Linked DNA regions of Homo sapiens: all the other regions are reported to be linked to region 2. The links are microRNA targets in miRTarBase. Many come from high-throughput screens and were not tested one by one. Region 2 holds a microRNA gene; each other region holds the end of a gene's coding sequence.
The links. The annotated mature microRNA hsa-miR-342-3p reads UCUCACACAGAAAUCGCACCCGU and lies in region 2 at 3,792-3,814, shown strand. An mRNA with a match to its seed (bases 2 to 7 or 8) in the 3' UTR can be bound and repressed. Matches are read on the target gene's strand: a 7mer-m8 pairs with bases 2 to 8, a 7mer-A1 pairs with bases 2 to 7 and ends in A, and an 8mer does both.

Region 1 (7,727 bases), not on the chromosome of region 2:
AGCAACGCTAAATCTATGCTGGGCTCTTCCGATCAGCACTTCAGAACCTGCGCCAAATCACTCTGAATCTTCTGCAGTCAAGGCCCATGGGAAATGGAAGTCTCTCCGAGTGTCTAAAGCAGACAGAATTCTGTGCACTCATCAGGACGGTGGGACTCAGAGGGGAAGGTAAGAAGCCAGGACTCAGGACCAGTGAAGCAACCCGAAGGCCAGCCACCGCAGGAAGCTGCTAGCCCCCAGGTGTGGGGGCCGAAGGTGCAAGTCCAGGTGCAGAAGCCAGGGTCCCAGGCAGGAAAAGAAATCACAGGGGTCCCCACTGGTGAGAAGCACAGCCCCAGGAGGCAGCTATGGCTTCTTCCTCGAATCTCCAGCTCCGACCTCTCGTGGTCCGAGGCCAGTTGGAAGGCACCTTGGAATGGCCTGCACAGGGCTGTCAGGCAGGACAGGCAAGGGAAGGGGATCTCAGGCCACACAGGCCAGAACCACACACACCGCAGTAACAGACATGCTGCTGGGAACCAGCAAAACAGATCTGGAGCCCAGACAGGGGAAGAAGGTGGGCGACCAAGCTGAGAACCACCACCTTTGCTTAAGACCAAGGTATGAGCAGCCTGACTCAGTGGGAAGCGATCCGGTCGCCATTTTCAGTCCTTCTGTGAGTACTGGAAGGAAGGCACTCCTGAGCCTTGGCAGCATTACTTCTGGAACAGCCCGAGCACAGCTGCTCAGAAGGACGTTCATTTGCACACAAGACTTGGTTTAAGCTAAGCCAGCAAAAAAAGGCTGCACCGTGGGAGGTAGACAAGAAGCAAGTTCCAATCCCACCCCCACACCTGCTCTCGCCTTCGGACGGCTGCCCCTTGGTGTGGTCAATCACGTGCATCTGAGGGACGTCAGGAGCAAAGATCTGGACTTCAGCCCCTCCACGGCTCAGGTGCACCAGGATCCTGCACGGGGGAAAACCAGAGACAACTCTTCAAAACGTGCCCCACTCAGATTTGTGTTAACACATTTTTAAAAACAGGATTTTAGCTAAGTACCAGGAGCAAATTCCTAATGTATATTAATATCTTACTTGCTCTGCAAAAAGTTACAGTTGGTTCCATACCAAGCCAAACGTCCCCCACACCCCCATTCCAATTCACTGTCGGTTGGTGGGTTACGACTATGACAAACCCTCAGAAGTGGGCTATGGAGATCAGCTGGTCCCAACAGCTCCCTTTGCAAACTGGGGTATGGGGGCCGGGTGACTCCACTGAGGGCACAGCCTGGAGGCGTGCGGGTCCCCGGCTGCTGAGTGCTCTACCTACACCCAGGGCCTGGCTGCCCTCCTCCAGTTGCTTGCTGCAAGCACCAAGAGTGAGAAGCAGCAGTGTGCTCAGAGTGCCACGTGCACAGACGGTGTGACGGGGCTTTCGGTCACTACTTAGTTCAATTTCTAGTCTCCCTCAACTTTCCCATCACAGATGGTGGGAGAGACACAAGAGACCCCAGGACAACACCACAGGCCAGGCAGCTCCATCTCCCCAAGGGCAAGGGCAACAGAAGCTCCTCCTGGGGACAACAGCTGACATTATGGGGGCTCACGCTGGCATCCGCAACTCCCAGTGCCAACAGGAGATAGGTGGCTAAGCCCACCCACACACTAAGCCCTCACTGCCCCTTACGTGGAGGAGGAAACCGAGGCATGAAGTGCAGTGACTTGCCAGAGGGAGAGGTCAGCACCTGGCCCTGGCACTTGGGTTCCGCTACCCATAAGAAATCCACCCAGACACCCCAGACACAAGACCCTGCCGTTCTGCCTGGGAGGGCTCAAGCTATTCTGGGGCTATTTTCTATCCCACCAAGGCCAAATCATGAAACACATCCTGGCCCTTTCCCCCAGCTCACTCTGCCTAGTGCCAACTCCAACCAGCCAAGGTGGGCCACCCACAAAGCCACCAGCCTCAGGCCACTCTCCATGGCCTGACACCCCTTTCGCCACCACCCAGCTCTCCCCTCTCCAGTTCACCCTGAACCACATGGGAACTACAGGTACCTGGCACGCGTGGTGGCCTCCTGCCCTACTGGTTCGGCCTGCAGTCATTTCCAGTAGCACAGGAAATCAGGCCACCAAGCACTCAGCAACAGCTGACCAGTTACGTAAACAGTAACCTGTCTAGGACCCAGAAATACCACGCAACTGTTAAAATGATGTTGAGAACTGAATGAATGGGAATTACTTCCCATGCGTCAGAAACATTTGCAAAACACGGGTGAGTGTGATCTCAGTGTTTTCAAAATGTGTGTGTCCTGAAAAACACTCAAGTGAAATGCTAAGTCATTTCTAGGCTCTAGGTGACAGCATAAGCGACACTTAAAAACTGTTCTTTCTTAGCGTCTCCCTGGGTTTTGCAAGTCGTTTTTGCTTTTTTTTAGCCAAGAATAGGGTATTTAAAATACAAGCTCTCTCGGCCGGGTGCAGTGGCTCATGCCTGTAATCCCAGCACTTTGGGAGGCCAAAGCGGGAGGATCACTTGAGGTCAGGAGTTTGAGACCAGCCTGGCCAACATGGTGAAACTCCGTATCTACCAAAAATACACAAATTAGTTGGGTGTGGTGGTGCATGCTTGTAGTCCCAGCTACTCGGAAGGCTGAGGCAGGAGAATCGCTTGAACCCAGGAGGCGGAGGCCGCAGTGAGCCAAGATCGCGCCATTGCACTCCAGACTGGGCGCTGTCTCAAAAGACAAAAAGTAAAAATAAAATAAAATACATGCTTTCTCTAAGCTGTTCAAAAAAGAGTAAACTTCACTGGTGGAGAGGCCTTCTCGAGGCCCCCGGGGTGGAGGACCAGCTGCCCCTGAGGACTTACGCCGAGGCCTCGTGGATCTCGGTCCCATCGTAGACTCCGCATCCAGACAGCACCTGCGAGAGGAGCGGGAGCTGACCCGGGGGAAAGGGGCCGACCTGGGCGGCGGGAGTTGACTGGGGGGAAAGGGGCCGACCTGGGCCGCGGGCGCTGACCCGGGAAAATGGGGCCGACCTGGGCCGCAGGAGCTGACTTGGGGTGAAGGAGCCGACGTGGGGCGGCGGGAGCGGACCTAGGAAGAGGGGCCGACCTTGGGCAGAGAACAGCGAAGGCTGATCTCTGGAGGCGGGAGCTGACCTCACCCCCTCCGTCCACTCACCAGCGCGACCCTGGCCGCGGGGCGCGGCACGGAGAGGTGAAGGGCTGCGCGCTGGGAAGGCGTCCGACCGCCGGGGGACAGGGACGTGAATGCAGATGCCGCAGCGAGCCTCGAGGCCACCAGGACCCTCACAGCCGCCATTGCGGTGAGGACAGCGGGGTCGGAAGGTCACGCAGGGACAGAGCGTGCGCACCCACCCCTCTACAAACGCGTTGCTCGTCGGGACTGCGCCTGCGCAGCCTTCTGGGCGGAGCCAAGACCCGCCCCCGTCTCAGCCCTATCCAGTGAGTTCGCCGGTGGGCGGGGGCCGCGCCTGCGCAGAGCCTCCGAATAGAGTTCCGGGAACCCTGTCTTCCTTCCGGTGGTGGCTGAGGGCTCGTGCTCGAGGCTGAGGGATGCTGGTGACTCCCGGGGTCCCCAGCCCCGCCCCCATCGGACGCCTCCACAGGCGGCGCACCCTTTCCGCCATCCGCAGAGCAAGGCTGCCTCGGGGCGGCTCAGTCCGGCGCTTCTTACCTTACCTCCGTCTCATCCTTAACTCACCACGAGCGTCCAGGGTCCACATCCTCCTAAATGGCCACTCGTCTTAATCTCGGCGTCAGGACCCACGCGGGGTCAGGACTACCCCTCCGCTTCCATGACTGTCTCCTCGCGGCTCCGGCTCCCACGGAGCGACCCCTCCGGGTTTTACTGACCCCGGGATGTTGTATCCTGGAAACTGCAGTTCCACCCAGGGGCTTGATCTGGGTTAGTCTGGGGGCAAGTGAGCCGCCGATTCTGTTTGGGTTTTTTTTTTTTTTTTTTTGAGACGGAGTTTCCCTCTTGTTGCCCGGGCTGGAGTGCAATGGCGCGAAGTCGGCTCAACGCAACCTCCGCCTCCCAGGTTCAAGCGACTCTTCTGCCTCAGCCTCCCAAGTAGCTGGGACTACAGGCATGCGCCACCACGCCAGGCTAATTTTGTATTTTTAGTAGAGACGGGGTTTCTCCATGTTGGTCTGGCTGGTCTTGAACTCCCGAGCTCAGGTGATCTGCCCGCCTCGGACTCCCAAAGTGCTGGGATTACAGGCGTGAGCCACCATTCCCGGGCGCTGTTTGGGTTTGTTTTTTTGTTTTTGTTTTTTACGTTCACAGCATGGACGGTCAGTGTGAAGATCCCAGCTGCTCGGGTCCTAGCTGGAATTCTTCCATTAAAAAAATCTGTTTGTTATGCATGGGTTAGTTCACAGAGGAATAGCTGGATAAGTGCTGGCTTTTTCCCCGATTTACCCATTTTCAACCTAATAATGCAGGTTTTTGAAATAATGTGAATGGTTACTGCTGGCGGATGTTCACAGGGACACACCGGATTCTACAGACACATCTGATGATCTAGCCACGGCTGTCACTTTCCCCACTGCCGCGTTGTCCATCACTAGGACTTTACTGCCAATCCTTGCAAGATAGTGGGGAACTAGAATAACAGACATGGGACATTACCAGTTACAACCAAAGACAAGCTTGGCACATTTGACTGTCCTCGTTCCTGCTCCTCCGTGCCTGGCCCTCTTCAGGCTTCTCAGCTCCTGGGGAGCGGCCAGCCAGGGAGCATCAGCTGGTGGGAGCGATGGGGTTGTGGGATGGCACAAAAAAACACCAAGCGCCACTCAGAAAGGAAATGCCGAATGCAGACTCTCACTCAGTCGGTGTGGGGGCCAGGACCCTGTCTCTACCAAGTGTGCGGGAGCTGCCCCTGGCCGGGAGCTCCCAGACCCCACTGCAGAGCCGCAGCTCCAGTTGTCCCAGGGGCGACTACTCAGGTGTCCATCGCCATGCACATGTGACACAGAAAAGGGTGAGGCGAGGAGGGGGAACGCTGGAAATTGTTTCACGGAAAAGGGCGAGGCAAGGGAGGGGAACACTGGAACTTGTGCTTTGGGTAGGCGATAGCTAAGGATTCTCTCTCGTCTGGGTCACGGAGATTGTGCAGCCACAGAACACCTGGTGTCATCAGGGCCTGAGCTCCTCCCTTCTACAAAGACCTCTGGTCTGCAGGCCTGCAGGTACAGTGCTGTGGGCCACAAGGCACTGCCTGTCGTATTCATCTCCACTCTCTAGCACATCTGGCCTCACGCCACCCCCGGGAGGCCGGCAGGCAGATATCAGCTCCACTTCCCAGATAAGCAAGGGAGCCAGGTACTACCCAGGGTCTTGGGGGCCACACCGCTGGCGAGGGACAGGCTGGGCCTGGCAGACAGCACTGGCAGTCGGTGAAGTGCCCACCTCAGTGTCAGCCTCAGGTCCTGACCCTGGAGGCTGCTGTTACTGAGCTGTGGGGACCAGGATGCCCTACCATGATGGAGACCCAAGCCTCTCTCATGATGACTATTCCCAAGGGCACTGCAGAGGGGAGGAGCTGTCTCCTCCTCCGTGTGGCCCACGCAGAGCTGGTGCAGGTCTGAGTGAGCTCACCAAGACAGGCCAATCCCAGCCCCAGACTCCAAAGCATCCCCAAGAGGTCAGGGAGAGGCTCTGTGCCCCTGACCCCAAGGATATGCACAGGTCACAAGGCAGAGCCCCCGCTAGACAGCAGGAGCACCCTGCTCTGTCAGCCTGCTTCCCCAGGACGGAGGCCCTGGTGGTAAGGCAGGCAGGTCTTGAGCCCCCACAAGACAGCAGGATACAACATAACCCTTTTTAATCTGAAGTGTAGACTTCATCCTCACGTTAGAAAACTCCATCTTTTTTTTAATCCCTAAGTTCTTTATCAAACCTTTATGTTAAAGATATAAATAAGTCTCATACAAAGTTCATGTGAATACCTCTCTGAGACGCATTTTCAACATTCATCACCGTTCACACGGCCCCGCTCCTGGGGCCAGGTGCCAGTGCGTGCCGGCCCCTGGCGTGACCCGTCGGCTCGCTGTCCTGATGGGCTACATGTGTGCACAGGAAAAGCAAGTCACTACCACTAGTGACAGTATTTCAGCTGTTCTCTGGACCCCTCCTCTTTGCTGGCCCAGGTGGCACAAGGGTCCCATCTCCCTGGCAGGTCTTAGCCGGCACAATCCAACGCTGCAACCGGCTGGCTCTAGGCCAGCATCTCTTCTTCTGAGTCTCTGCCTCCTCCTCCAAGCAGATGCAGGCTGTCATCTTCAGATGCTTCTGCCTCCTCCTCACTTCCCAGCGGGTCTAGGGAGCGTTTTGTGCCCCGCTGCTTGGAAACTGCTAGTGCGTACTGCATGTTATAGTGGTTCCAGCTACAGCTGTCAATCACACAGGGATGGTCAATGCCAGCAACGCCCAGGCCCTGGCCTGTCCTGCACCCAACCACCTCCTCTGTGACCCCTGAGAAAAGCAGCAGGGGCTGGACATGCCGGTTCCTCCACCCCAGCAGCCATTTTTTTCCTCTTTTCCCTGCCCCAACAATCTGGTTCTGCCCCATCCAGCCCTGGGGCAGCAAAGGCCTTCAAGGACCCAAGGACCCAACTGTAACATCCCATCCCTTTGGGGTCATCCTGGCAGCTCAGCCCTTCCGCTGGGCCCAATCTAGATGGCTTCACCAGCAAGTTCCACCAAACACTTAGGAAGAGACCGCTGCAGAGCTATGTGGTGTTGTGGAGCGAGAGGGGAGGAAGGCACGCTCTGAATCAGTTAATTTTCTGAGTTAATGGAATAAAGGAGAAAAGTGATGCCACCATCACTTTACATAGGAAAGGAGAACTGAAAGATAAATGGATGAGAAAGGAAGGAAGCGCCCCATCGCATCTGCAGGGCACAGGACCCTCTGTGCAGGACTCTTCCTGACAGCCAATGGCAACCCTACAGATTGGCAGTGAACGCCTAGACAGGAGGTCCAAGGAACAATGCACTTACGTGAACTCTAAAAACATCCCATAAGAGGGAATAAATCTAAAGGAGCTGGGCCGGGTATGGTGGCTCATACCTATAATCCCAGCACTTTGTTTGAGAGGCAGAGGCAGGCAGATCACCTGAGGTCAGGAGTTTCAGACCAGCCTGGCCAACAAGGTGAAACCCTGTCTCTACTAAAAATACAAAAATTAGCTGGGGGTGGTGGCGTGTGCCTGTAACCACAGCTACTTGGGAGGCTGAGGCAGGAGAATTGCTTGAACCTGGGAGGCAGAGGTTGCAATGTGCCGAGATCACGCCACTGCACTCCAGCCTAAGCAACAGAGCGAGACTTCATCTCAAATAATAATAATAATAATAATGAATTAAAAAATAAATAAATACATAAATAAGGGAGCTAGACAACCCTCCTCCCCTACAGAGCTCTGTGAAAAGTCCAGGACATCTCAGCCGAGGGAAGGCCTGGCACCAAAACTGTGGATCAGGGCACATCCCAGCCTTCTGTAGGGCACCCAGAACACGAGGGGAGGACAGGCTCGACCTGGACTCCAGGACTCTTTCCAAAGACTGAGTGACACTTCAAGGACAGACAGGAGGACCACATGAACCCACAAGGCCCAAACTCAGGCTCTGCCCCTGAACCCTGGACAGAGCAACTCGCAAACAGGACAGAGAACAGACCGTTCAGAAACGCAGCTGGGAAACCCGGCAAC
Region 2 (7,727 bases):
AGTCGGGGGAGAACCTGCCCTGCAAGCCGGGAGGAGGCTCTTGCCCCCACTCAGCCTTTGCCTCGCATGTGGCTTTAGTTACGTTTTGTCTTCTTTGTAGGTGTTGATGTTCTAGACTCTGAAATGGCAGTGTCAGACCAGACAAGAAGCTCTCACCAGAGACAAAGTGGAAACGGAGAGCTGTTGGCGATTTAGGGGACAGCGGGGACAGGTGCACATTGCAATGTGCAGGATCATCCTGCGCAGTGAAGTCTTGTCTTGCGTGTCCCACCAAAACATGCAGTTGAAAAACTCAAGCCAGAGCTTGCTCTGTTTTAAGAAAAAGCACTTATTTTTTTAACCAGGTTTAGTATGTGCTGAATTTTCTAGGAATTTGACTACTGCATCCGTCAAAAGAAAATCATACTTAATTTTGTTTGTAACTTTACCAAGAGTTGTTTTCTGTTTCGTAAAGTCCTATCTCCAGCATCGTCACTGTGACGTTTCAGTCATCCATAGACCTCCCCTTCGTCACATCCCATTTGCAGCAGCAGCACTCCCAGTGGGTCTGTGGGTAGGTGCAAGCGTGGACCGCCTCCGTCTCCTAGTGTAGCTGGGTCTGGCCCTTTATGTGTTGTAATGCACATTTTATTATAGACTGCTTCTCTTTTCTCTCTCCTTTGCAGTACATGTAAGGCATTATATCCGAATTTAGGTAGGTAGGTTATGTAATCTATGAATTTCACTTCAGGATAATGCAAGGATCATTACAAAACATTATAATAAAAAGAGGACCATCGGGCCTGAGAGGGTTGAAGTTTTGTGAAACTCGGGCTGGTTCCTTCCTGCATTGCATCTGTGTCTTGCCTGGTTGTCGCTTAACAGTGCCATGGAGATAGCACAGTGTCTGTCTCATTTCACAGCCAGGAAAACTGAGCCCCAGAGGGAGGAAGTTTGTACTTGGCCCAAACCACTTCCTGATATGACCCAGTCAGGAAGAGAAGCCAGGATGAGAACATGCTCCTCTTCTCCTCCAGTGCCTGGAAGTGTGGTGGGAGCAGCTTGGTCTAGCAGGAAGAGTGCATGTCCTGGAGCCGGGCTACGTTGGGTCTGTGTGACCCTGAGCAAGTCACCTCCTCCATCAGCAGGTGGAATGACACCACAGGCCCGTGGCAGTTCACATGACACGAAGATGCCCGGTGCCTGGTATGTGGCCTTCAGGGCCGTGCCCCATGCTGCTCCTCTTTTTGTCCCCACATCCAGCAGTTTTCCATTAAACCACTGTAGGTCCTCTCAGAACTTACTAGAGTCATCGTGTCATCGTCTCCCATTACTCCAGGAGAGCAGGGCCCTGGTGGCACTTGAGGCAAGACCCCAAGCTGATGGCACTCGACCACATAGTGGGAGTGAATTTTAAAGAAAATCCCCCTCAAAGCCTCTGCTGGTGTAGAAGGCAGATAGTCTAGGCCGGGGTAGGGCCAGTGAGTGGGAGCCAGGGAAGGAGGCTTGGGTGTCATGAGACTGGGTTTACATTTACAGATGACAAAACCAAGACCCAGTGAGGGGGAGGATGTGTGCAGGCCACAGGACAAGTCTGAGCAGAACCATGGCCACGCCCAACGTTCCTCCACTAGCATTCCCTCATGAAAGATCACTTTTTCCAGGCCAAGGACCAGAAAAGGACCAGGCTTTAGGAAGAGGGCCGAGGTGCATGGAAAGCAGTGCTGGTGAGGAGAGGGTTGAGTAACTGGATTTTGACTGTTTCTTCGCATTTGGTTCTCACTAATGAAATCTTGTCAGACGTGCCCCTGCTGCTGGATTGGGTGGGGGTGGGACAGAAGCATGTGTGGTCAAAGGCAAGTTTATTTGCAGTTTGGGGGTTGAATGCAGTGGATTTCAAACTGGATATTTTGAGGAGTTCCAGGGGTCCACCAAGGTATACCAGGGTCCTCGCCCTGATGCAACCAGAGTAGTTCTTCATCGACTTTATACAGTGGGACTCTGAAGAAAAGAAAAAGGAAAACCCCATAGCTTAGTGGGAATCCGGGCGAATTAAAACACAGGATGAAGTGCTTGTTCTCTTTGGCTCTTGGAGCATAATGTATGTCCTTTTCCTACTTGGTTTGCGTGTAATAACATCATTGGTATATTTCAAAATATGAAGCTCCTGGTGCTGGATAATAAATGTTTTCCCAGTTTTTCAACCTCTTATGTCCTTCATTGATGCCCAGTGGCCCAGGGGCTGCACCTTCAGCACAGTGTTGAGAAAGAGCCCCGGAAAGGGACTTACAGGCAGACCTTCCCGGGAAGAGTCAGGCCCAGCTCCATGTGCTCTTTGGAGGGGAGTGGAAGGTTGTTAAACCTCATAGCTCTTGGAGGTGGGGCTGAATTTTGCTTCTTGTAAACCTCTTTCCATTGGAAATTACCTCTTTCTCCCCTAAAGAGAAGGAAGTACTGGACTGTCTTCATCTCCCTGGCTGCCGAGGCCATTTGACACCTTGTGCCACCTGAGAGAAAGCAGGCCCAGCATGGCCCTGCCTGAGGGGAACAGGACGGCAAGCCCCTGGCCTCCTGCCTGCTCCCAGCTGCCCTCTGGCGGCCACTTTCTGAAAGCCGGATATGTCTCTTTGCTGACCCACCCCTGTTCTCACCCCAGGGCTCCAGATGTTGTATCAGGCAGGGCCTTTGTACGCCTCCATGCCAACAGCTACCCAAGTCGCACCGTCAGTCACACTCTTACTCAGGCTCTCCTGTGCCCCTGGCCCTTCTTCCCCTCTCACTTTTCCCCACACTTCTAAAATCTCACTCGTCCTGTCAGAATGTGGCTCCACAGATGGAGCCTTTCCCAGCCGCCCCGCTCCCTGTGACTTTGCACTCCCTCCTGCACTCCCACGGGGCTTTATTTTTGCCTCTGTCCTAACAGTCAGCTGCCACTTGGCCTGTCCTGCTATTCCCACTGCATGAATCTAGTCAGGTTGGAAATTCAGAAAGTGGCCTCTTTGTCTCTGGACCCCAAAAACCCACACATCGTCTGCCTTATAAGCTCTCAGTATATCCATCCCTGGCTGCAGGAACACACCAGGACCCAGAGGCTGCCGTGCCTGGAGCCCTGTCTCCTGACTCAGCCCAGGCCCCAGCTCAGCATCGAGGTCCTGTGGGACCATGTCCAGCAGTGAAGGCTGTGCATTGGCCTGAGCCCCTGGTCCCTCTGACTCACTGGCTCCCATTTTCACCACCTGCACTGCATATTCTCACCGTCTCTCCCCTGACACTCTCTCCCCTGAAGTGTTGTAATGGGGTTGTAACCCATCCACCTTCTCTTGTCCTTCTTCAGTCTGTCCTCCCTGGGCTGCGTCTAAAGGGGCCCCGCCCCTGCCCTCATGCATGTTCTCTCCATACTCCTGGTCACCTTCTGCTCATCCTTTGCCCTGCTGTTGTGAAGCCTTCCCAGTGCCCCAGAAGACCTCAGGCACCCCTTCCCAGTCCTCGCACACTGTTGGTGTCCCATTTGTTTGGACCCTGGGTTTGTTTGTCTAGACTGTGAGCTCCTCGAGGGCAGGTGTCTGTTTCTGTGTCTCGGGAGCCCTGAAGAGAGACTGACACATCAGAGGTGTCTGGTGACTGAACAAGCTCCCAGCTTGCGCCCATGTCATATTGTGTGCCTCTCATAGCCTGGCACTTCCTGCCATTGCATCCTTCTCTGCAGACTAAGATGGAGTTCCTGAACCAAGACCGCTTGCTGGCCAACCTGTGAAACTGGGCTCAAGGTGAGGGGTGCTATCTGTGATTGAGGGACATGGTTAATGGAATTGTCTCACACAGAAATCGCACCCGTCACCTTGGCCTACTTATCACCACCCCAAACAGAGGAACACGCCTTCTCCAGCCACAGCCTATGGAAGGGCCTTCAGCTGCTGTGGCCCCGAGGTGTGCATACTGTGGAAGGAACTTCGGACGTGAACTCGGATCTGGTTCCAGTACCAGCTGTGCCAGGAGTGTGCCCTTGGGCATGTCACTGACCTAAGACTCAGTTTCGCCATCTGTGAAATGGCTGAATCAGACTCACCTCACAGGGTTGTTGTGAGGGTACCATGAGATGATGTTTGTAAACATTCTTTGTCACCTCTAAATTACTATAACAGTTTGAAGTTACTCTTTTTAAAAAAATTATTTGCAAAGGTAACTAACAATATCAGCCGTGCACAGTGGCTCATGCCTGTAATCCCAGCACTTTAGGAGGTCAGGGGATCACTTCAGTGTGAGAGTTCGAGACCTGCCTGGTCAACATAGCAAGACCCTTGTCTCTACAAAAGCATTAAAAATTAGCTAAGTGTGATGGCGTGTGCCTGTGGTCCCAGCTACTCAGGAGGCTGGGGTAGCAGAATTGCTTGAGCCCTGGAGTCTGAGGCTGCAGTGAGCCATGGTTACACCACTGCACTTCAGCCTGGGCAACAGAGCAAGACGCTGTCTCAGGAAAAAAAAAAAAAGGTAACTAACAATATCAACTCCTGTGTGGTGCCAGCAGCCATCACGTTGGGACACAGAGGGAAGCCAGGCTTCTTGGATCCTGATGGTCAGAGAACACTTTCTGAGGGAAGCGGGGCTTGAACCTGGGCCCTGCAGGGCTGGGGGTGAATGGGGGGATCTGATGAGGAGGAGGACGGCGGCACCAGCAGATCTTGGTGGTTTGGAAGTTCAAATCAAGATCTGAGAAGAGGCTCTGTCTGACCCTGGGGGTCTCCCTCGGCACATTGGTAGTACTGTGCATGCCTCACGGGTGCCCCTAATTTCAGAGCATCCCACCTGCATCCTGCTGCTGCCATTGTCCTCCTCAAAAGAGCTGCTGGCTTATTGCAGTTTACATCCTAGAGAAGAGAGGTCTCCTCCTTCCACCAGTCCCAGGATTATCTCCCTAACGCTAATGGCGAGATTCCTTTGGAGTTTTAGTCTTCTGTAGATACAGCCCAGGCGCCATGTGCCCAGTCAGGGTTTGAGATAGGTGGTGGTTCATTCCCCAGCCTTGCCTCACCAGCACCTTCCTGACGCCTCCTGGTAGGGCTCAGGAAGCAGCCAGCTGAGGTGTGCCTGCCATGGTCAGCACAGTGGTTGACAGAAGTGGCACAGATTGTGGGGGCAGGTGACAGGGTACCATGCCCTAGCTCCAGGCACCCGCTCCACCCTGTCACATGGAGCAGCTGTGAAACCTTGAGCAAGCCATTTCACCATTCTAAGCCTTAGTGTCCTCATTTTTTTTTTTTTTTTTTTTTTTTTGTGATAGAGTCTAGCTCTTGTTGCCCAGGCCGGAGTGCAGTGGTGCAAACTCAGCTCACTGCAACCTCTGCCTCCCAGGTTCAAGCGATTCTCCTGCCTCAGCCTCCCAAGTAGCTGGGACTACAGGCATGCGCCACCACGCCCGGCTAATTTTTGTATTTTTAGTAGAGACAGGGTTTCACCATGTTGGCCAGGCTGGTCTTGAACTCCTGACCTCTGGTGATCCACCCACCTCGGCCTCCCAAAGTGCTGGGATTACAGGTGTGAGCCACCGTGCCCGGCCAGTTTCCTTGTCTTTAAAATGGGTGTGACAACCACCTCACAGAGTTGTCATGAGGCTCAAATGATAAAATAGATGGGACTGTGATTTGTAAGCATATGGCACAGTGAATGCAAGTTGTTCCTGGAGTGCCCAATCCCTAGATACTGGGATCTCACCCCTCAGTCGTAGCCAGAGTCATTTCATTCTGGTGTGCCACCACCCAGAGCTAAGCCGTATACTCCTTACAGAAAGGAACAAACCCCTTCCTGGATGCTCTTGTGCCTGGATCTTGGCTCCCTGAGATTGCAGGGAGATAGCAGGAATTACTTTCTCCATTTTAAGAAGGAAGAAACAAAGGCTCACAGTGCTAAGAAACTTGCCCCAGGCCACTCTGGTGAATGCAGAGCTTAAGGCCCAGAGCCCAGATGTTCTGATTTCCAGTCCAGGTCTCTGCCCAGTGGACCAGACTGCCTCTCAAAAGACCCTGCTCAGCTGGCAGCCCCCCAGCTTTCTAAACTATAACCCGGCTTGGTCAGAGGTTGATTATTATAAACACTTAACCTGCCCCATCTTTCTAGCCACATACCCACATCTTCGAAAGTGAGGGAAGAATTCATTCACAGCTGTTTTCTTTTTTCCTCGCGTAGCGTGTATCATTTCTTTCCTAAGGAAGGAGTTTTACAAGTAGCCTCCTGCCAGCTTCAGCTCATATAGGATAAAAGCCAGCTCAAATATTTTGGTAGATAACTCCGGAGACTCAGAAAGCCAACTGCTGAACTTGAGATACAGTTTCCAGTTTGAGAGTGGACAGGCTGCGAGTGTTTGAGGCCCTGCCCCCTGCCTATCTGCTGCCTGCCCTCTCTCATCCAGGTGTCCATGCAGCAGGGGGTTTCACAGCAGCCACTGTCTGACTGGCTTGCTCCTGCATTTAGCCCACTCTGATCCATTCCCCGCAAAGCAAGCAGACTGCATTTCACCTCTCAGTCAGGTCTCAGTCCTTGCCCAGAACTCTCTAGGATTTTAGGCTTAACTCAGAATATAGTCCACATCCTTACCAAGGCCTGCTTAGCCCGGCATGCTGTGGCCCTGGCTGTCTTTCTGAACTCACTTCCTCCCTACTCTCTACCTCTCCTCCTTCATCCCAGTTACGCCATGCCCCAGATGTGCCAAGCATGCTCCTAAAGTCAGGGCCTCTACACCCAAGGCCCCTTGTGCCCAGAATGTTTTCTCCCCAAAACCTCAGGGCTCCTTCCCTCACTTCTTCCGGGTGTCTGCTTATACCACGTAATCGCAGAGTTTGTCTTAAGAACGACCCACACACATTCCTTTAATTCTCATTCTCTGCTGTGTTTTTCTTCCTACATGTTGTGTCTTTATTTGTTGCCTGTCTCTCCTCTCTAGATTGTAAGTTCCAGGGGAGCAGTTTGTATCCACAGCTATGACCCCATCTGTGAATTACTGAGCACCTATTCTGGGCCATGCACCAGAACACAAAGATGAATAAGACTTGGTCCCTGTGTTCACAGAGCTCACAGCCAGGTGGAGAGAGAGCCTTGTCAATACAGTGTATGTTATGCTATGATGCAGAGAACACAGGGCTTCTTGCAGGGGAGGCTGTGGTGAAGGGGAGAGCTACTGGGAGAGCCCTGGGGGCGGGCATGCCTGATCTGAGTCTTAAAGGGGATGGACAGACGTTCACCAGTTAGAAGAGTAGCCCAAAAAGAAGCAAAATAGGCAACGGCACAGAGGCATGTGAACCTAGTGCTGCCATCTTGGATGCATGCGGGAGAAGAGAAAGGGGAGGCTGAGGAACAAGCAGAACCAGGCCTAGAAGGGCAGGCTTTGAGCGTAACATCCCAGGCTTAGCCTCATGCCTGGAGCTGCGAGGAAGGTCAAAGAGCAAGTGAGAGCCAGGACTCAGATTTAACTCTTAAGTGGCTTCAAGTCTATATGCTCAGAACGGTGCCCGGCAGGTAGTGAGCACTCAGCGGTGGGTGTTGCTCTCATCATCTTCCTCATGCTTCCTCTCTAGCCCCTCAGGTGCGGAAATTAAGTCCCAGTGAAAGGAAGTGAGTAGCTGGCCCAGGGTCAAAGGCCCACTAGAATCAGTCTGCTCATCGTGTGGGGGAAGGATTTGGGCTAGGAGGAGGGAAATCAAGGAAGGAATGAGGTGCCAAGCTTCAGATGCCCCCACAAGGCAGCAAGTGTGAGGGGT
Region 3 (7,727 bases), not on the chromosome of region 2:
TGTCCTGACAGATTCAGAATAACGTTAGAAGCCTCTGGGTAATGGGTAGAAGCTTAGACTTGGAGTTAGAGGGGCCCAGTGCTTATCTAGGCTCCACATCACCAGCCCTCACCCATCACAGTCCCCTTGTCTGTGAACTGGGAACAGCAGTACATCATTGTGGTCCATGCCACGCGTGGCAAGGCATGGTCAGCAGGCAGTGACTGATCAAAAGGTGGAGAGGTGGCCAGGCAAGGTGGCTGACACCTGTAATCCCAGCACTTTGGGAGGCCGAGGCAGGCAGATCACTTGAGGTCAGGAGTTCAAGACCAGCCTGCCCAACATGGTGAAACCCCTTCTCTACTAAAAATACAAAAAAAAAAGAGCCAGGCATGGTGGTATGCACCTGTAGTCCCAGCTACTCAGGAGGCTGAGACATGAGAATCGCTTGAACCCGGGAGGCAGAGGTTGCAGTGAGCCGAGATCGCGCCACTGCACTCCAGCCTGGGCAACAGAGTAAGACACTCTCCCTCAAAAAAAAAGCAGCAGCAGCTCTGGGTTCTTCCCAGGGTGGAGGCTGTGAGCAGGGCGGGTAGACCAATCCATCAGACAGGCTGCCTGCTCCTGGCCAGCTGCTGATTGACCTGAAATCCTCCAGCCAGCAGCAGCCGCCTCTTCCCCCACAGCCATGTTTCCAGCTGGTCTCAGGCCTGGGCTTCTCCCCAAGACCACTCTGGGTCTCGTCCAAACCTGCCAAGAGACTCCTAGTGGCAGAGTCTTGGTTATGTCAGCACCCCCTCAAGGTGCATATATGCACCCCAGCACTTCACCACCTCGGAGGCTATATCAGCAGCCGCTTCCGCTGGGGAGGACAGAGCCAGGATTGGCCCCTCGGAGTCCGAAGCCTGCGGCTTTGATAAGAGACAGGCCTCCCACTGCTCAAGACTGGGGCCGCCTTTTCCCATTTCTGTGCAGCTGCCTGCCTCTCTAGCCACCCACTGGCTGACCACTGGTCCTTCTCAGCCAGCGGGACCAATGGGCTCCCTGGGCTGTGGTCACCATGGTGACCAGAGCTGGGCAGGTAGGAACAGGCATGGGCCTCACTCAATTTCCCTCCTCTCAGGCCATCTTGCCTGCCAGCAGAGCCCAGCTCGTCTTTCCCCAGGAATCTTCATCATCACAGCTGCCTTAGCTCACCCATCTCTGAGCCCCTGTCTCCCTTTTTATCGATTTATTTTTTGAGATAGGGTCTGGCTGTGTCACCTAGGCTGGAGTGCAGTGGTGCAGTCATAGCTCACTGCAGCCTTGAAATCCCAGACTCAAGCGATCCTCCCACCTCAGCCTCCCAAGCGTCTGGGACCACAGGCATGTGCCACCACGCCTGGCTCATTTATTTTTAATTTTTTTAGAGATGGGGTCTCAGTACGTTCTCCAGGCTGGTCTCCAATTCCTGGTCTCAAGCGATCCTCCCACCTTGGCCTCCCAAAGCAATGAGAGTACAGGCGTGAGCCACTGCCTCCAGCCTCAGCACCTCTCTTTTTAGCCCCCTATTTTCTTAGGGACTTGGTGGTTTTCATTTGGTGCCCAAAATAGAGCCTGGGTTCTTGAGCCAGACCCACACTGGAATCCTGGCTCTGTTATTTCCTAAGTGATCTTCGGCAAATCACTGAGCCTTCCAGGTCCAGAGTTTCTGGACCGTTGAGTGTACAGTGAGCAAAATAACCCTGCCTTGGCCAGGCGCGGTGGCTCACGCTTGTAATCCCAGCCCTTTGGGAGACCAAGGTGGGTGGATCACTTGAGGCCAGGAGTTTGAGACCAGCCAGGCCAACGTGGTGAAACCCCATCTTTACCAAAAATACAAAAATTAGCCAGGCATGGTGGTGGGTGCCTCTAATCCCAGCTACTCGAGAGGCCGAGGCAGGATAATTGCTTGAACCAGGAGGCAGAGGTTGCAGTGAGCCAAGATCATGCCAATGCACTCCAGCCTGGGTGACAGAGTGAGGCTCCATCTCAAAAAAAAAAAAATCCTGCCTCCTTGTGGGATGCAGTGTCAGAGTTCACCTCCCTGTGCCGTGCCCCCTCCCCACTCAGGGCCTGGCACTAGGTGGGTTTATGCAGGTGCCTGGTGATGTATGAAGAGCCCCAAATGCAGCCTGGGCTCGAGTCTGCGGCTGGGTGTGGTCACACATAGTGTGTGCCTGTGTCCCACGTTCAGGGCTACTCAGGGACTCTGTCTGTAGGACAGGGTGGAAGGGATGGCTCCAGCGTTTGGATTCTGGGTTTTCATGAGCTAGGTAAGGAGGCTTAGCAGTTGCTGCTGCTGTGGACTCCCCCGCCTGCCAAAGCCATTGCCAGCCCCTGGGACTTCCAGGCTCTCAGGAGGGACATGGGTGACAGTCACTGCCCCCCATGATGCAGCCTCTTCAGGGGCCCTCCTGGAGTTGCCTGTTCTTCCAGAGAAGCCCAATGTGCAGGGCTGGCTGAAGGGGGAAGAGAAACCCCAAAGCCCCACCCAGCCTTTTCCTGGCCTCCCCTCCACCCAGAGCCTTCCTGGGAGGTCTCCAGGAACCCAGTTTGAAAGCCAGTTGCACGCGAGACAATGGGCGTGATGACAGCATCAGACCCACAAAAGGGTTGTAAGAACTAAAGATAAGGGCATTACCCACTACTGATGCCATCGTTTTACGGCTGAGGAAACTGAGGCTTGGCGCAGATCAACCACTTGCCCACATGGCTCCTACTCTGCTAAGCTGCTGGGGATGTCCTGTGTCATCTGAGGGCCTTCCCTGCCCAGTCCTCCCAGGAAGCAGCCTTTGATTCAAATCCCATTCTGTTGAAGGCCGAGCGCAGTGGCTCACGCCTGTAATCCTAGCGCTTTGGGAGGCCAAGGCAGGAGGACCCCTTGAGATCAGGAGTTCGAGACCAGCCAGACCAACATGGGAAAATGCCATCTCTACTAAAAATACAAAAATTAGCTGGGTGTGATGGTGCATACCTGTAATCTCCACTACTCAAGAATCACTTGAACCCAGGAGGTGGAGGTTGCAATGAGCCGAGATTGCACCACTGCACTCCAGCCTGGGCGACAGAGCAAGACTCTCTCAAAAAACAATCCCATCCAGCCAGGTGCGGTGGCTCACGCCTCTAATCCCAGCACTTTGGGAGGCTGACGCAGGCGGATCACGAGGTCAAGAGATTGAGACCATCCTGGCCAACATGGTGAAACCCCGTCTCTATTAAAAATACAAAAATTAGCCAGGCATGGTGGCACGTGCCTGTAATCCCAGCTACTTGGGAGGCCGAGGCAGGAGAATCACTTGAACCAGGAAGTCAGAGGTTGCAGTGAGCCGAGATCGCACCACTCCAGGCACTCCAGCCTGGTGACAGAGCAAGACTGTCTCAAAAAAAAAAAAAAAAAAAAAATCCTGTTGGAAAGTGAGGCAAGGCACAGGGTAGAGCTGGCCCCAGAGCCTCACTCTCCACCTCTCTGGCCTACCTTGCCCTGCCCTTGGGACAGCTGGAACCTCAGCAGTCACAGGGCTGCCTTCTGTGTCTCCCTCCAGAGCTGCCCTCCTCGGAGCACCTGAGTGTGGCGGATGCCACCTGGCTGGCCCTGAACGTGGTGTCCGGCGGTGGCAGCTTCTCCAGCTCCCAGCCTATTGGCATGACCAAGATCGCCAAGTCAGTCATCGCCCCACTGGCTGACCAGAACATATCCGTGTTCATGCTGTCCACGTATCAGACAGACTTCATCCTGGTGAGCTGACCATCACAGACACGCCTTGCACACTTGGGCCCGCCTCTGACACACTCACTCCCATCTCCCACCCCTTGCAGCCTTGCCCTTCCACGCTATTCCAGGGTGGGGGCAGAGTCTCAGGGTGAGAGGTTGGTGCCCCAGGGCCACCAGGCACACACAGCCTCAACTTCTTGCCCCTAGGTGCTCAAGCGGGACCTGCCCTTTGTCACCCACACGTTGTCATCAGAGTTCACCATCCTGTGGTCAGTGGCTAGACTGTAGCAGCCGAGAACCTCGGCATCACCAGTGGCTTCGTGAAGCCCAAGCTGGGTGAGCTGGGGGCGGGGGTTTGTGCGGGGAAACCTCACGAAGTTACCAGGCCAAGCCGTAGACCAGCCTTGCTCTCAGCACGGGCTTCTGCCCACTGAGCATGAATGGAGTGCCAGGCAGAACGGGATGCAAAGGGCAAGGTGTGGTGGCTCATGCTTGTAAACCCAGCACTTTGGGAGGCCGAGGCAGGCAATTCACCTGAGGTCAGGAGTTTGAGACAAGCCTGACCAACATGGAGAAACCTGGTCTCTACTAAAAATACAAAATTAGCTGGGTGTGGTGGTGCATATTTGTAATTCCAGCTACTGAGGAGGCTGAGGCAGGAGAATCACTTGAACCCAGGAGGCGGAGGTTGCGGTGAGCCGAGATTGTGCCATTGCACTCCAGTCTGGGCAACAAGAACAAAACTCCATCTCAAAAAAAAAAAAATGTGATGGAAAGGTCCTGGGCAGGCCCTGCTGCCATGTCTAGCAAGGGTGGTGGACGTGCATGCATACAGCAATGGCCAGAGGCCACTCCTGCTGCAATCCCAGGTGTCAGGGTGGGTTTCCCTGGGCAGGGACTGTGGTGCTGAAGCCTGGAACACAGGTAGGAACGGGGCCAGGTGGTGCCAGTTGGGAAGGGCATCCCAGGCAGCCAGCACAGCATGTGCAAAGGCCCAGGGGCCTGAGAGTGAGATGGAGAATCAGGACGGTGGTAATTGGTGGTAGAGGCTGGAGAAGCAGCAGTGAATGAGTCTCTCAGGGCCTGCGGCTGAGCCCTCCCCAGCCCTCTTCCCAGGCCCTGCACTCACCAGAGCTGCTGCTTTCAGTCCCAGCCTCAGTGCCTGACATCTTTGTGCTCTTACAGTCCAGATGCCGGTCATCCACCCACTGTCCAGCCCGAGCAACAGGTTCTGTGTCACCAGCCTGGACCCCGACACGCTGCCTGCTGTTGCCACACTCCTCATGGATGTCATGTCCTACTTCAATGGGTAGGGCTGCCTTGGGCATGAGGGGTCGCCGGCTGGACCAGGGGGAGGCACGGCTCTGCCTAGGAGTCTTAGTCTGACGGGGGAGGCTTTGCCAGGAGCTCATCTGAGGGAAGAGACACAGACCTTCCCTGGAGCTAGTCTGAGCGGGGAGACATGGACCCACCCCGGAACTAATCTGAGTGGGAAGGCAAGGACCCGTTCCAGAGCTAGTCTGAGCGGGGAGACAAAGACCCGCCCCAGAACTAGTCTGAGGTGGGAGACATGGACCTGCCCTGGAGCTAGTCTGAGGTGGGAGACACAGACCCGCCCCGGAGCTAGTCTGATGGGGGAGACACGGACCCGCCCCAGAGCTAGTTTAAATGGGGAGACACAGACCTGCCCTGGAGCTAGTCTGAGGTGGGAGACATGGACCTGCCCCAGAGATAGTCTGAAGGGGGAGACACGGACCAGCCCCAAAGCTGGTCTGAGGTGGGAGACAGGGACCCACCCTGGAACTAGTTTGGGGTGGGAGACACGGACCCGCCCTGGAACTAGGCTGAGGGGGAGACACAGCTCTACCAAGCAGAAAGGTTGGCTCTGGATGGAACATTTTGTGGGGAGTCCCCCATGTCTGTGAAGGCCTCTGCCTTCCCCGAGAGGAGGCGGGGGAAGTGATTGAGGGAAGATTTCAGGTGAGTCCCCCTACTCTCCACACCCTGCCTAACGCCAGCTGTGGAAGGAGGGCATCAGGACCCCAGCCCAGGCCACAGCAGGGAGCCCAGCAGAGGGAAGCCAGGTCAAACCACAGGGACTTCTCTCAGGCCAAAGCCCCAGGAACCCTTGCTGTTGTCCTAGAACATGGTGGGATTGGAGCAGAGACCATCCCACTGGGATCCCCCAGCCCTATCTAGGCAGCCACAGGTGTCCCTCAGGAAGCTCCCCCAACACCCCTGCCACTCTGAGAAGCCAGGACAGATCTCTAAGATTGGGACACTGCCCTCTCCCTGGGCCAACCCCAGCCCTGCAATGAGGCCCCAACCCACTCTGGTTCTCACCTGGCTTCTGCCTCCCAGGGGTGGAGACTGCCTCCCCACTCTCTTCACCCCCAAAGAAGAAGCACAGCCGAGGCCGACATCAGAGAAACTGTGTTGCTGACTTAGTTGCAGCAGGAAATGACTGAAATGGGGTAACTGTCACTCACACACTCACACCTGTGCCCACACACGCACACACAGAGACCACATCCGCAGCAGGTGGGCCTGGCCAGACACCTATGGGACACTTATTGGAGGCCCAAGAATTAAAGTAAGGGGGTGACACCCAGGAGGCCTGGGAGGGGGAAAGCCCAGTGGCCTCATGGTCTCTCTCATCGAACTCCTAAGGGTCCTTCCATGGCCCTGGGCCCCCGAGGGTCAGGGAAAAGAGTGAGGCCGGGACCAGTGTGAGGAGGCCTCTCCCCTGCCTGAGCGTAGAGTCCATTCTCAACAGAGACAAAGCTGCCACGTGCAGGGATGGGTGTGGAGGCCCAGGCGGCAGGGCCCTGGGGCCGGTGTGCAGCGTGGGTGGGGAGTGACGCCCACCAGGACGGCCCCCCATGGGGGTGAGCTGTGTCCAAAGTAGCTGGGCGGCAGCTGGTGTTGATAGTGGCATAAGGGACGTGAAGAGCAGCCTGGGAGGCCTGGCTTGGTGCCTGCGCGGGGGAAGGAGGGTCAAGTGAGTCTGCACAGCTTGGGCCCAGCCCTGGCCCCCCTGCCCCTGCCCCTGTCACCTCATCCCCAAAGCAGGTCCCCTCCTCACCCATGCTCGTGCTCTCGGTGCCTGGGGGCTGGTGCGGGACGGCTGGAGCCTAGGGGCAGGGCTGGGAGAGAGCAAGGATGGTCAGAGCTCTGCAGGGCATGTGGCCATCCCAGTGTCAGGGGGACGTGGACAGGGACCAGGTCTCACCGGTGCTTATGTCGGCGCAGCAGATGAAGGAGGTAGACACAGCCAAAGAGGAGGACTCCTGAGACCCCCAAGATCCCGGCCAGGTCTGCCCGCAGAATGGGGGCAGGAGTCGGCGGGGCAGAGAGCCCTGGGCACGGAGACAAGAATCAGATGGGTGGCCAGTTCCCGAGCCCCTCCCTGCCCTCCTGGACCCCTCGCCCCGGCCCCACCTGGGTCTGAGCTGGGCGGGAGGCTCCCACAGGCCTCCCAGGAGCCCTCAGGGAAGGACGCAAACTTGCAGCAGAAGGTGGTGTTGGCGCAGGGGCTGCTGGCCCCAGAGCCTTCCAGGATGAGAGAGATGCTGCTCTGGGTTTCCCAGCGGGCCTGGCGAGCAGGGGCCCATTGCCGGATGCCACGTTCTGGGTGCAACACAGCCAGCGTGGTCCCCCCAGCACCGTTGGGGCCCCCCCAGCTCACAGTCACCAGGGAGATGGAGCCAGACCCCAGGAACCCACAACGGATGGTGAAGGACGAGAGCTCGGTGGCCTCCATCCGAACTTGAACCCACACCTCCGGGGTCCCTGTGGAACAGCAGCAAGGTCGGTGGGCTGTTGTCCTACATCACCCTCCCTGCAGCCCCTGCCCCTCTCTGGTGCCGGCACTCACCCGCAGTGACACACAAGGTCAGCAGCACCCAGGGCAGGACCAGGGTCCGGTGCCCCATGGCCCCCTCCAGTCCAGGTTCTGGGGGCTGCAGGGCCGGCACCTGTGCCTCTGTTCTCATCGCAGGAAGTCTTCATGTTG
Region 4 (7,727 bases), not on the chromosome of region 2:
CTCAGGGATCTAGAACTAGAAATACCATTTGACCCAGCCATCCCATTACTGGGTATATACCCAAAGGATTATAAATCATGCTGCTATAAAGACACATGCACATGAATGTTTATTGCGGCACTATTCACAACAGCAAAGACTTGGAACCAACCCAAACGTCCAACAATGATAGACTGGATTAAGAAAATGTGGCACATATACACCATGGAATACTATGCAGCCATAAAAAATGAGGAGTTCATGTCCTTTGTAGGGACATGGATGAAGCTGGAAACCATCATTCTCAGCAAACTATCGCAAGGACAAAAAACCAAACACCACATGTTCTCACTCATAGGTGGGAATTGAACAATGAGAACACATGGACACCAGGGGAGGGGGGGAGGGATAGCATTAGAAGATATACCTAATGCTAAATGACAAGTTAATGGGTGCAGCACACCAACACGGCACATGTATACATATGTAACAAACCTGCACATTGTGCACACGTACCCTAAAACTTAAAGTATAATAATAAAATAAAAAAGTTATATTATCCATTATATAAAGGATATATTGAAGTCTCCAACTATTCTTGTTTTATTGTATACTTCTTCTTTCAACTGTGTTAGTTTTTGCTTCATGAATTGTGCAGCTTTGTTGTTAAGTGCATATATGTTTATAATTGTGATTTTTCCCAGTAGATTGGCCTTTTTTATCATTATAAAATGTTTATTTCTAGCAATTTTCTTTTGTTTTAAAGTCTATTTATCTGGTATTAGTAAAGTCACTCCAGTTTTCTTGTCTACTGTTTGCATAATATGCAAAACAGGAAAAAAACGCCTGTGATATATAATGCATATATATGATACACATGAGCTGAATACTTCGTAATGTATATTTAGATTATTTAATTATAAATGCAGGCATCCTGCATATCCTGTTCGCTTTGCTGTTGAGGTATAAAATAGAACAATCTTACTGGTTCCAAGACTCAAACACAACTATTTCATGCCTAAATATTTAATGAAAGAATCATAAATGTATGCAAATATTTAACTAGAAACACCTTATTGTTTAGTAGCCCCAAACTGAAATATTATATATCTAAATGTTCAATAATTGGGTATTAAATTATAATACATCTATATATTGGAATATCAGAAAGCCCTTAATAATGTTGTGGAAGATTCTTTAATGACATGGAAAGATAGTCATGATATAGTCAATGAAAAAAGTAGGTTACAAATGGTATGTACAGTATAACTCCGTTGTTATTCAAATATATATTATGTATATGCAAAGAAAAATTACCCAAAGGTTAACGATTATCTCTGAATTCAGCATTATGGGGGTTTTACTTTGTGCTTCCCCTGTCCCTTTGGATTTTCTATAATATGGATGTCTTTTTTTTTTTAACTAGGAAAAAAGAACAATAAGTTAATTTTAAAGATCAAAATATAATTTATGCCTATTAATTTGGCAAAGATTATTTAAAAAGACAATACACAGCATTGGCAAAGATTTGGGAATAAATGGGCATGCGCAAAACGTATGCTGCTAATGTTAGTATAAATAGCTACTAGGAGCTTCGTTATAAACGTGGAAACATAAACTGAAGTCCTTAAAAACAGAGGAAGTATTTTCAGTTCTAGGAATTAAGCAAATTATTTAGGGATGGATGCAAAAATGTCTACATAAACCCAAATATCCATTTTAAATTAATGATTAAATAAATTACATCTGTATGAATCAATACTATGTATTAAAAATTACATTGCAGGATTCTTATTTGACATAGGTCAGTATATTAAGGGCAGTGCACCAAGTTTTTTTTCTTCTTTTTCAAAGCCTACAGCAGGTAGAAATTATGTACCATAAAACACTGAGTTAATATGAAAAGCTATCAGTTTCCTAGGGCTGCCATGACAAATTACCACAAACTAGGTGACTTAAAACAATGGAAATTTATTCTCTTACAGTTCAGGTTAGAAACCCCAAATCAAGGTGTTGGCAAGGTTGGTTCTTTCCGGAAGCTATGAAGGAGAATGCTTGTTACTTCTCTCCTAGCTTCTGGTGGTTGCTGGCAATCCTTGGTGTTCCCTAGTTGTAGGAACATCCCTCCGGTCTCCTTTATCACAAAACAGCCTTCCCAGTGTTTCTGAGTATCTTCTGCTCTTCTTCTAAGGACACTAGTCATTGGATTTAGGGCCCACCCTAATCCGGCATGACTACAACTAATTACATTTGCCAAGACCCGATTTCCAAAATAAGGCCACATTCTGAGGTTTTAGGTTGACATCAGTTTCTGAATGACACTACTCAACCCACTACATGTAAATAACATAGATATACAAAAGATTGAATATATTACTGACAGTGTTTATCTCTGGGTAGTTTTAGTTTATGAATGATTTAAATATTTTTTTGCTTTTCTGAATTTTAAAATAAATAGCTTATATAGAGATTAAGTTCTAAGTTTATTGTATAAAGTGAATATTAGGTGTAGTCAAAAATCATTTCTGGCTGGGTGTGGTGGCTCACACCTGTAATCCCAGCACTTTGGGAGGCCGAGATGGGTAGACTGCTTGAGCCCAGGAGTTTGAGATCAGCCTGGGCAACACGGCAAAACCCCATCTCTACAAAAAATACAAAAATTAGCTCGTTGTGGTGATGCATGCTGTAGTCTCAGCTACTCAGGAGGCTGAGGAGGGAGGATTGCTTGAGCCCAACAGGTCAAGGATGCAGTGGGCTGTGATCGCACCACTGCACTCCACCCTAGGGGAGGCAGAGCAAGACCTTGTCTTTATAAAAAAAAAAAAAATCACTCTTTTCTCTCACAGAGCTCACAAATTACAGAATACATCATTTTATACCTCATATCTCTTCTCAAAAATGTCCAACATAGGCAATTCTTCCTCCAACACTGGAACAGACTACTGTTCCTCTGGGTGAGTACTAGATGAAGCAGTTGGTTTGTGTTTATATGTTATGTTGTACAAAAATGAAAAAAAGGTTTTCTAAACATGAAAGTGTAGTTGAATGTGTTCAAGTTAAATGAGTATGAGACTCCACTGTTTTAGTTGTGTAATTAGAGGAAAAACTATTTTCTTCAATGTTTACGAAGAACACTACCCATGGCAATGAGTTAGGAAACACTCTTAAGACTAAGGGAAAAAAATAATTATTGATTTCCAAAATGGACTTCTTAAAGAGGTGAGGAATATCTCTGAGTATTTCTGAGTTTTTTAAAAGTCCAAAAACTTAAGAAAATAATACTTAATGTTCAGCATGAAGTTGAGATTGGGCTGCAAAATTGGGGTTTAACAATTTGAATGCCCAAGAAGCAGCTTTTGCTTTTTTTGCAGTCACCAATATCCACAATGAACAATATTAATAAAATTAAATCAAAATGAAAAATTGACAGCATTTAAGATACTGTGGATAAAATTATAGCCAATTTTTGTTTTAAAAATTCTTCCACGGTATATTTTCCTTTTAAAGATTTACAACTATGGTGTCTCTCATAACTGGAATAAGATAAATTCTATATAAAATTCAATTTTAAAAAGTATTCTCATGTACAGAGGCTGACATCATGGGTAGTCAAAGAATATGTTTAATAAAAAATAATTAAACTTCCATTTGCTCTATAGAACATCATAGAAAGTAATTTAATAAATTACAAATGACTTTTTAAGACGTTTGCTCAACTACAGAAAGCAAATTCAGACTACACAAAACACAACTGGTAAATATTGCAAATGTCCAAAAGAAAGATTGGACTAAGACTTGAATCATAAAACCTGAAACAAGGGCTATAAATACAAGGCAATAACAGCTATAATTCTTTTAGTAACTACCAACACATACTTGGATATTCTTTCAACTGCAACTTTAGTATTATGTAATTCTACTGATTTTTTTTTCCTTATAACCCTTAACTTTACACAACCATATTTGCATGTGTTTTCTTAGCTGATAGCTGGACAACTTTTCCCCAATGAATATTAAATAGAAGTGTCTTGAAACCTAAGAGAATGTTTAAAGTTATGTTAGACTTAATGCTTTGAAAACTGTAATTGCCTTATTATATAGAAAGAGAATCACTAGGATGTTAACCAAATTTATTTGACCATAATTAGGAAAATACTTTCTCTCATAAATTTGATATAAATTAGATTTTAGTGACAAGATCTACAGATTTTTTTTCCTTTTTTTTTTTTTTAATTGGCGAAAGGAAGGAATAAAGATCATGTGGGTAGAATTAGAGGGAGGAAGGGAAATGTGGTTGGTGTTGAAATACTCCACCGGTAAACTAAGATAACTGTGTTTGAAACTTTGGCTATCTCATAGGTGTATTCTAGTTAAACAAAAGTGCAATACTGCAAAGGGAAGATACTAAATATGTAATATATCATTTTCATGATGAAGAATTACTACCCACTTCTCCTGGATGGGCATTATAGAGACTATTGCTAAGACATTGCATAAAGGACTATCAATTCAAAGTACTATTTTGGGAAAATACAAAATCAATACAATCCCAATGGAACTTATATAATTTTGTAAATACATATAACACTGTCTCTCTAATAAGGGGTTATTTTACATACAGAAACATAATTTACTGGTAAAGGTCTTGGAAAACCTGATACAATTGACTAACTCATGACAAAGCAACAGTTTTATCAAAACATACTGAAAGTATTTTTTCTGTAGGAGAGAACTGGGACACTTTTTCCCCCTAAATTTATGCCCTTGCAGACTTTACTACTAACTTATTTGAGTACCAGAAAAATGCTAACATATATCTCTCCTTAGAATGTCAATATTTTTATGTCCAATTCAGTACTAATTGTTTTAAATATATATAAAGGTGAACCTGGACCTCTACCTTGTCAGAATAATAGCAGCTTTAGCAGGAGAAATTGTATCACAAATCAAATATCAGACAAATTTTACATGGTAAAGGAGTCTATGAAATTGAACAGAAGCCTCAGGCTTCACTTTTGTGGTTTACAGGTATAACTTGTACATCTTTTTGAGATTATTCAAAGTGCATTTTCAAAACGGGCAACTCAGTATATTTAATATAAACTGATAACCCAACACTGATTCTGGGCAACATTTAGTCTGCTTACACCTAGAAACTCAAAATGAATTTAGACTATCTGCATATTACTTTACCACTATTATCTGTTAATTCTGGAATATTTCCATGACATAAAACACAAATAGAAATCTACACAAAGAAAGCAAACAAACAATTTCTTTTACATGAAGTATGCTGTGTTGAAAGTTCTTTTCAGTGGCATTTCATGAGTTTGCCTTTTCTGAACCCTGGAAACAGACATTACTCATCTGAGACATGATTATTTCTAATAGGAGGCCAAACTTTGAAAAGTTAAAACTAAGTATGTCTATAGGGTGCCAAAGTCACATGACACATGATTATTTTATGACTTAATTTTACTGATATCTGAATTAAGCTCAGCAAAAAGCAAGTCATATTTCTTGCCAGATTGACATGATATATAGGATGTGTTTAAAAAACCCCTGAAAACAAGTATAGAATTAGAAACGAATGTAAACTTCCTAAACTAACTCAGCTGAGGTAACAGGTAGCCAGTTAAATTGGCTGATTGGGAAACTTATTTCTTCTTTAAAACATACTTGTACCTGAATTGGAAACATCAGCAGTGCATCACAACACTAGAGCATTTTCATGTAATTAAAGCAATGGATGGTGATGTAGATTCTACAGCTTTCATGACATTCATTAGCTGCCCAAATTATTGCTGAGTTTTGATCTGTAAATTATAGGTGTCAAGGAGGCTGTAAAACTATATTCAAATTAAATCAGTAATATGCATAAAGTATTCTGTGTTCACTGCAAATATATTAAATATACAACTCTTATTGAGCATAATTTTCATAAAATTAACCCCCAACAAAATTATAATGCCTTTTGTTGTAATTTTACACCTTTATGTATTTGATAGTACATACGAGTTCAGAAACTTATGAATCTTAAGAAATATTACATGCAAAAAGTCTCTGAAAGCAGTTTGCACTTCTAAACAAATAACTGAAATGTTCGGTCAGTAAGTTATTGATGCACTCAACACTGGGGTATTTACAATTAATTATTAAAGAAAAAATCCAAAATCAGTTCATATTTTAAGTGCAGAGTCTGGGAATCAGTCTTCATTACTAGAATCTGAATCCTCAGATGACGACGATGTACTATCAGATCCAGATGAAGCATCAGCTTTCTCTGAACCCTCATCTGTGCTGTTTTCATTGAGAGGACTTGGTTCAGTTCCTCCTTTGTCTTCCTGATCTTTAATTCTGGAATCTTCTTCTTTTACTTCTACAGACTTAGACGAGCCTAAGTCACTGTTTTTGTTTTGTACATCAAAAGTATTGGACTGGGACAAAGTTGGAATATGAAGATTAAGGCCTGGAGTGAGAAGCATCCCTGGATAAAGTATATTAGATAGTAATAGTGGGTTAAGAGCTAATGGGTTGGCAGCTGCAGCTGTATTTAATGCAGCAGTAGAGGATGTGGAAGGAGAACTTGACACAGAGTTTTCTCCACCATTCTCTGAACTTTGGCTCTCTGTCCTTTCTGTTTTTCCTTCTGACTCCTTAGAGTCACTTCCCTTTTTGTCTTCTGTCCCAGATTCCGTAGGCTTTGTCAGGAGTCCTCCCATGCCCAACAGATTTGGTAATCCAGCCATTCCTGACAGCAGCATGGGGAACATAGCAGCCATGTTTTTAGCTTCTCCTCCAGAAGGAAGGCCGGTAGGCATTCCCATCAACCCAGCAGTTACTTGCAGTGACTGCAAGTTTTGTAGGTTTTGTTGTAAGGCCTGAAGAGTTGTGAGATCCACACCTGGAAGTAGTCCATTGGCTAACAAAGGATTGCCTGAAACACTGGTGGCAGATGCAGCAGCTGCTGCTGCTGTGGCCTTTGCAATTCCACTTTTAGGCCGTCTCCCCCGCCTGCTTACTTCCTCTCTCACAACGGGACCAGTGAGAATACGTTCATACATGCTTTCTGGAAGAAATCCCTGGAAGAAATATATATTCATTAATAATCCCTACATGAAAATAAAATAAAGAGTTATTAGCTTATCATACAAATAACCATGAAAAATAGGTAATTATTTGTAAATTTATTCTGTACTGATATTAAATAATCAATTATAATAGCAATAACCTAATTTTATATAAGTGGTAGCTTCAAACAGCTCTTCCACTTTTCATTTTATCACAGAATAAGTGAGTAAAGAGGTCTTTAGCCTTCCTCCATACTGTAAAACATAAGATTGTAGTATAATTCTAGAAAATATAAGGTCCAAAAAAATTTTTTCATGGGTACTTCCATAACCCTTACATGTTTCACACCATCACTTGTCCTAGAAGACCAAAGAAGTGGCTCCCTTCTAATTGGGAAGAACAATAAAGAAGGAATATTAAAGGTTAAGGTTATAGTAAGATGCTTCATATGAATTATTTTACTGTCACTTTGGGAATAAAGGAGATAGAGCCATGCTCAAAAAGATACTCAAAGTGGGTTAAGGTCACCTGCAGTAGCACTTGCAGATTGGGAACCATAAAGTCCAGGACAACAGAAAACAATCTATGCTACTTTCATGTAATTCTCCCATGATTTTCTGGGTCCCAGAACTCTTAGAAGTTTTAAGAGTTTAGAATCACTGGAACAGCACTATCTA

Region 1: the mRNA of PWP2 is a reported target of hsa-miR-342-3p. The part of its 3' UTR that is shown has no 7-base or 8-base seed match.
Region 3: miRTarBase lists PVRIG as a target of hsa-miR-342-3p. Seed matches in the 3' UTR shown: 7mer-m8 at 6,205-6,211 and 7mer-m8 at 6,197-6,203.
Region 4: miRTarBase lists CHD9 as a target of hsa-miR-342-3p. The part of its 3' UTR that is shown has no 7-base or 8-base seed match.

What each region holds. Positions count from the first base shown.
Region 1 is chr21:44,129,280-44,137,006 of GRCh38, reverse strand. It overlaps PWP2 (PWP2 small subunit processome component), which reads right to left. Exons shown (of 21, transcript NM_005049.3): 21 at 5,826-6,410. The coding sequence ends at 6,236. It overlaps GATD3 (glutamine amidotransferase class 1 domain containing 3), which reads right to left and starts at 3,324. Exons shown (of 7, transcript NM_004649.8): 1 at 3,169-3,324; 2 at 2,853-2,905; 3 at 834-947. The coding sequence starts at 3,309. RefSeq lists enhancers at 2,241-2,768, 2,769-3,296, 3,297-3,824.
Region 2 is chr14:100,105,924-100,113,650 of GRCh38, forward strand. It overlaps MIR342 (microRNA 342), which reads left to right and starts at 3,732; the gene lies at 3,732-3,830. The region is part of intron 3 of EVL (Enah/Vasp-like); the gene reads left to right. It overlaps MIR151B (microRNA 151b), which reads right to left and starts at 3,591; the gene lies at 3,496-3,591.
Region 3 is chr7:100,219,891-100,227,617 of GRCh38, reverse strand. PVRIG (PVR related immunoglobulin domain containing) reads right to left here and starts at 7,669. Exons shown (of 5, transcript NM_001397246.1): 1 at 7,590-7,669; 2 at 7,154-7,504; 3 at 6,945-7,071; 4 at 6,798-6,858; 5 at 6,128-6,690. The coding sequence starts at 7,647. The coding sequence ends at 6,367. It also overlaps the pseudogene CASTOR3P. RefSeq lists enhancers at 5,910-6,009, 6,030-6,129, 7,520-7,589, 7,650-7,727 and a silencer at 6,550-6,599.
Region 4 is chr16:53,323,354-53,331,080 of GRCh38, reverse strand. CHD9 (chromodomain helicase DNA binding protein 9) reads right to left here. Exons shown (of 39, transcript NM_001308319.2): 39 at 3,584-7,061. The coding sequence ends at 6,186. Among named protein-coding and RNA genes, the nearest start is that of RBL2, 110 kb to the left of the region's middle.